Regions from separate parts of the Homo sapiens genome. Here region 2 is linked to region 1. The links come from fine-mapping of genetic effects on gene expression. A gene starts in region 1. The other region holds a variant in brackets. All regions are shown on one strand. Distances are between the middles of the regions. Region 1 holds the start of SPART (spartin). Region 2 overlaps CCDC169-SOHLH2 (CCDC169-SOHLH2 readthrough).

What was found. PIP is the estimated chance that this variant, and not a neighbour inherited with it, causes the effect. A credible set is the group of variants that fine-mapping cannot tell apart.
Region 2: its variant is the best candidate, but not a certain one, in a credible set for the expression of SPART in neutrophils (CEDAR, PIP 0.59).

What each region holds. Positions count from the first base shown.
Region 1 is chr13:36,344,965-36,347,879 of GRCh38, reverse strand. SPART (spartin) reads left to right here and starts at 1,486. Exons shown (of 9, transcript NM_015087.5): 1 at 1,486-1,655. SPART-AS1 (SPART antisense RNA 1) reads right to left here and starts at 1,449. Exons shown (of 5, transcript NR_045181.1): 1 at 1,373-1,449. RefSeq lists a silencer at 1,588-1,637.
Region 2 is chr13:36,217,811-36,220,725 of GRCh38, reverse strand. The region is part of intron 6 of CCDC169-SOHLH2 (CCDC169-SOHLH2 readthrough); the gene reads left to right. Among named protein-coding and RNA genes, the nearest start is that of SOHLH2, 4.7 kb to the right of the region's middle. The variant T/CTTTTTTT (reference allele first, on the strand shown) is at 1,611.

The DNA.
Region 1 (2,915 bases):
AAAATTGATGATTTTAGATATTAAATTGGTATTTAGATTCCACTGGCTACATTTAAAAGTTATATAACTTTTATTTTAAAATGTTAATTTATAATAAAACAGAAGTTGCTTCTTTTGTAACTATTTAAGTCAGATGAGAAATTGTGATGGTCAATCCAAAAACGTGGAAGTGAGAATACAGTCATAGTCTTTGGGGACTCCTTTGGGGGTATAAGAGCAAAATCATTTTGAAACCACTGTATTAATATATTCCTAATAGGTTTTGCTTTTTGGGATGACTGACTGCTACCTTTCTGAGATTTGAGGGAGTCACTTAACTGGTCCTAAGGCCAGGCGCGGTGACTCACGCCTGTAATCCCAGCACTTTGGGAAACTGAGGCAGGTGGATCGCTTGAGGTCAGGAATTCGAGACCAGCCTGGCTAACTTGAGGTCAAGCTTTCAAGACCAGCTTGGCCAATATGGTGAAACCCCGTCTCTACTAAAAATACAAAAATTAGACGGGAGTGGTGGTGCACAGCTGTAATTCCAGCTTCTCTGGAGGCTGAGGCATGAGAGTCGCTTGAACCTGGGAAGCAGAGGTTGCAGTGAGCCGAGATCATGCCACTGCACTCCAGCCTGGGCAACATAGTAAGACTCTGTCTCAAAACAAAACAAAAACACAACAACAACAAAACTGGTTCTAAATGCTCCGGGCAAGTACATACTGCTTTTTCTTTTTTCTGTTTTTTTTTCCCTAAGGCAGCCCTATTGAAGAGTCTGTCATCTACAATATTTTACTAATTTAAAAACACTTGTCAAGAAGGGTAAAGTATGTTCATCTTGATTTTACTCTTTGTATCCCGGAATCAGGAACTAACAGTTTTATGATAGTGATATAGACTTTACACACACACCAAGACTTAAAACACGTGGTGCAGGCGGGCTTTTGGAAATTAACTGTGCTCTGGATACAGAAGTCACAAAGCTCAGGCTGCAGAGACATTGAGGGGATAATCAGCCTTTATTGTCTCTCGTGCACTGTGCCCAGCGCTCCCTCTAGCGGCTACAAGCGCTCACTGCCCACACTCTCTACTAGGCTCTCCGGAGGCCTCGGTTTCGCTGGAGAGAAAGAGATTGCGCAGGCGCCGAGCAGCCGACGTGGCCGCAGGGGACCGTGCCTGGGGGGGTCTGCGCGGGGCCGCTGACTCGCGAGGTTCTCTGTCGCCTGCCGCCCTCGCTCCTTTTCTCCCCTTCTAGAGTGTTACGGTGACTCTTGGGTCCGAAGGGGACGGACGTCCTCCCACGTACCATTTAGAAGGTCAGAGTGGGCAGAACCTAGTCTGAGCAGGCCGGTGATGAATCCGCTGGCAAGACGCGCGCGTGGGTACTCACGTGACCTAGGCTGCGGCGGCGGCGTGCTGCGGGCTCTGTGGCGGGAGCGAGGCCGACGGGCGGGGCCGCGCGGCCGCGTGACGCGAAGCGTTCGAGAGCGCGCGTCGTGGAACGTCTTGGTTGCCACGGCAAGCGCGCGCGCGAGGCCTTGGGAACCTCGGGACCGGCCCCCGGCGAGCGCAGCGGCGCCCAGTGTAAGGGAGTGGGAGCTGGTCCGTGCCGCGGCGGCCGCGCAGGGAGCTCTCGAGGCAACGCCGGGGCGCCCGAGGTCTGGAAGGCGCAGGTGGGGCGCGGGGGAGTTCACCCCTGCGCGGTCCCTTGGGTGGGCGGGGTGGGCGCCCCAGGCCCCGCGGACTCGGCTGGGAGGCTGAGCGGGCGACGGTCACGGGACAAGGGTGGAGGGGGTGGGGACCTCATCCGAGTCTCAGAGATGGAATTTTCGAGGAAGGGAGCGATTTCGAGAGAGAATAGTTTGAGAAGTTGTTCTCAGTCCCTTCTCTCGCGGGAGTGTGGTATTTAGGGAAGCTTCGGCCTCTTAACCCATGGACTGTTAGGATGGAGGGAATCCTTCCCGCTCGATTCCTATCGCGGAGTCCTTTCGGAGCATCGCTATTGATCATTCTCGCCGCCCCAACCCCGTTGTTTACTTTGGCTTCGCAGATCTCTGTGGTCTTTTGCCCTCCCGCAGCGCCCATGGCCCCGTCAAGGTTGGGCAGCCTTTCTCTGCAAGAAGGCCCACGAACAACTGCGGTTATATTGGGATGGATTGCGCGTGATTTTACTCTTTACAATACATTCTTTCATGCTTCCTAGGGATTGAGCTGCGCGGCGGATCCCTCCGACTTAATTCTGGGCCTGAGAAAAGTTTCTCTTGGAATGCGCAGTTTCGTGACGCAGCATTATTGCGTGACTCTAGGGCTGACCCAGTTTTTCACTTTCTAATTGTAAGGAAGTGCGCTAGTAGTCCACCGAGGATCCTCGAGGTTGGCCTTATTGTATCATAATTTAACGAATTTGCGTTCCAGGTTGTTACAGCCTTTGAAATAATGGCCTCATATTTAAGAATGTAGCAATTTTTCTTTGAAATTTCCGAAAGTGGGGAAAAAAGTAATAGAAGACTGCACCTATATGGAATTATTTTCTGATTCGCAGTTCTTTATAATCGTAGACTTAATTTGGTGGCTTTATTGGACCTGTTTGAAACAGGAAGCCTTTCTGTAATGTGGTTTCGGGTCGGCTTCACCTCTGGCACTCTCTGAAACGTCGTTGTCTATGGTTTCCCTAAGAAGCTAGAATGAGCGGGATGCTACGGAGGGAGGTGTATACAGGTGTTAGACAAAGCCCCCTCCGCTTTTTTGGTAAAGGGCCAAATAGGCATTAGATCAACTTGTGCTAGCTCTAAGGAGTTAAATGCGGTATTATTAAAGACTGCTTGTAATGTTGACTGTTAAGTGAGAGTGTTACTTCTTTCAGTGTTTATGGAATCGAACTAAATTGCTAGGTATTTTAATGCAGAATTTTACCTTTTCTCGGGTATTTTTTA
Region 2 (2,915 bases), 130 kb after region 1:
AGATATGGTGAAAGCCCTCTTCACTGGGAATGGGGTCGGTTCCTTTCTTGGGCTCTGACTCTGCTCTTGGGAGGAATGTTCTTGTCCATTTTTTCTTAGTAGCCACTGGCTCCAGTCCGTGGGAGTTTCTTCCTTTTTCATCTTCTTGCCCACATTCGAAGTGGATGATGAGGTTATGCCCTCTATTGGGGATGCATAGCTTTCAGAGCTCATAATCTGTTTGAACAAAATTGGGTGTCTAAAGCTGATTTTACAGTTCAAAGGCTTTTTAGTCCTAGTTTATATAAATTCCATCAAAATAGTAGCCAGTTCTATGTATAATATAATTTCAGAGCATGATTTGTTTCTTTGGCCCATACCTCTCTCTGCCTAATGGCAGCTACCATGCAGGTTATTTAACTAATTGATTAAGGTGATGTGAAGTTAACACCTATCCATAATCTGATCCTTGCCACAAGGCTGAGTATTAGTGGCCTTTTGTGGCTTGACTTTTCTCAGCCTTATCTCTTTCTTTTTGGGACCTAGAAATAGTTGGCCTTTCCAACTCTTTAATGCCCTTCAATGCCCCAAATTTCTAGATTCTTTCCTAGACTCTCTCTATTCCCTTTTATTTCTCCTTACAAACTAGTTAGCTATATTGCAAGCTCATCAATTTATTCTCTCTTACCAAAGGCAGCCAGTAACATTTAGTACACATTTAGTAGTCCATTCTCATGCTGCTAATAAAGACATACCTGAGACTGGGTAATTTATAAAGGAAAGAGGTTTAATTGACTCACAGTTCCAGCATGGCTGGGGAGGCCTCTGAAAACTTAAAATCATGGCAGAAGGGGAAGCAAACACGTCCTTCTTCACATGGCAGCAAGAAAGAAAAGTGCCAAGCAAAAGTGGGAAAAGCCCCTTATATAACTGTCAGTTCTTATGAGAACTCACTCACTCTTATCATGAGAACAGCAGCATGGGGGTAACCTCCAATATGATTCATTTACTCCCCACTAGGTCCCTCCCAGACATGTGGGGATTATGGGAACTACAATTCAAGATGAGATTTGGGTAGGGACATAGCCAAACCATATCAACACATTATTATTCGTTGTTTTCCCAACATCCTTCCTTTGACCTACAGTCTTAGTAAGCACTTGGTCTGCTATGGCATAACAGGGATCCCAGGCTTCCAACCTCCCATATTTCTTTCTGTGCCTCTCACTGCAGACCTGCTAAGTTAATGCCACACATATTAGTATTTTGTTTAGGCAGCACCTAAATTCAAGTTATTAATCTCTCTATTATGACTATAAAAAATAACTCAGACTTTAGAGGCTTAACACAAAGATTTCTTTCTCTCACACATCACAATCCATTCTGGCTTCAGCAGTGAAAAGAAGTAAAACTAAATAAATAACAAAATAGTATTTATATCTGGGGAGACAGGGAAATGTGAATGAGAGACACACATAAGGTATTTTAAAATTATTGATAGTGTCTGTTAGGCTGAGTGGTAGGTACATACACATCCATATTATTATACTTTAAATAATACATATGTAATAAATATACTCGGGTATGTATGAAATTTTCAAAATAAAAAAATTAAAATTACTTCAGATAAC[T/CTTTTTTT]TTTTTTTTTTTTTTTGAGACAAGGTCTTGCTCTGTTTCCCAGGATTGAGTGCAGTTGCATGATCATAGCTCACTGCAGCCTCAAATTCCTGGGCTCAGCCTCTCAGGTGTGTGCCACCACACCTAATTTTTTTTTTTTAAAATTTTTGGTAGAAATGATATTTTGCCGTGTTGCCCAGGCTAGTCTTGAACTCCTGGCCTCAAGCATTCCTCCTGGCTCGGACTCCCAAAGTGTTTGGATTACAAGTGTGAGCCACCTATACCAGGCCTCTCAGCTGACTTTTAAACCATATTAGTATACATGAACATATTCACGAGTAAAGTGTGAATGACATTTTTTCCACTCCCGCTTATCCCTCACCTTTACAAACAAGAAGCTTCTCTCCTTGAAGGTGGCCTGACATTTTTGTGCTAAAGAAATTCCTCATGACTTCATACAGCTGCAGTTGGCTGTCACTGTGGCTAAAGGTAAAAGAGTTCATTTGTAACTTTGTGATCTCCTCAGACCATAGAGCTATAACCAATGACTACCATGGGGGGATGCACTCAAAATGAATCAATGTGGGATCGCACAGGCCCACTGTGGACTTTGTGTGACACAGTCCCTCCTCCATGGTTATAGTGTTACTTTGGTTTAGCTCTACATTTCCTAGCAAAGACTTGTGATTAAAATGAGGCAGATTTAGTAGAACTAAATCCGGTTTTAAAAAGTGAACATACTGAATGATGAGAAAACTGTCAAGTCTTATTGCAATCTAACGCAGGGCATCATTAGAAGTTGGCACTATTCTTTGACCTGTGTTACTACCTAAGGGCAGTGGTTCTAAACTCATTGGGAAAAACATGTATTTATTATCACCTTCTGTATGTATACTAAATACTAGGATATGAAATCTAATAAACAGTCTCCGCCTTACCATGCTGCTAAAATCAAGTCATAATTGTTGAGCAGAGGTGTGAGACAGTGTTAGTCTATTTAAAGTGCTATAACAAAATACATACTGGGTGGCTTACAAACAACAGAAATTTATTCTCACAGTTCTGGAGGCTGTGAAGTCCAAGATCAAGGCAGCAGCAGATTCAATATCTGGGGAAGGCCCACTTCCTGGTTCATAGATGGCATCTTCTCACTGTGTCCTCACGTGGTAGAAGGGGTGAGGGATCTCTCGCGGGCTTCTTTTACAAGGGCACTAATCCAGTTTATGAGGGCTCCTCCCCCATGACCTATTACCTTCCAAAGATCCCACCTCTTAATACTATTACCTGGGGGCTAGATTTCAAATATGAATTTTGGGGGGACATCAA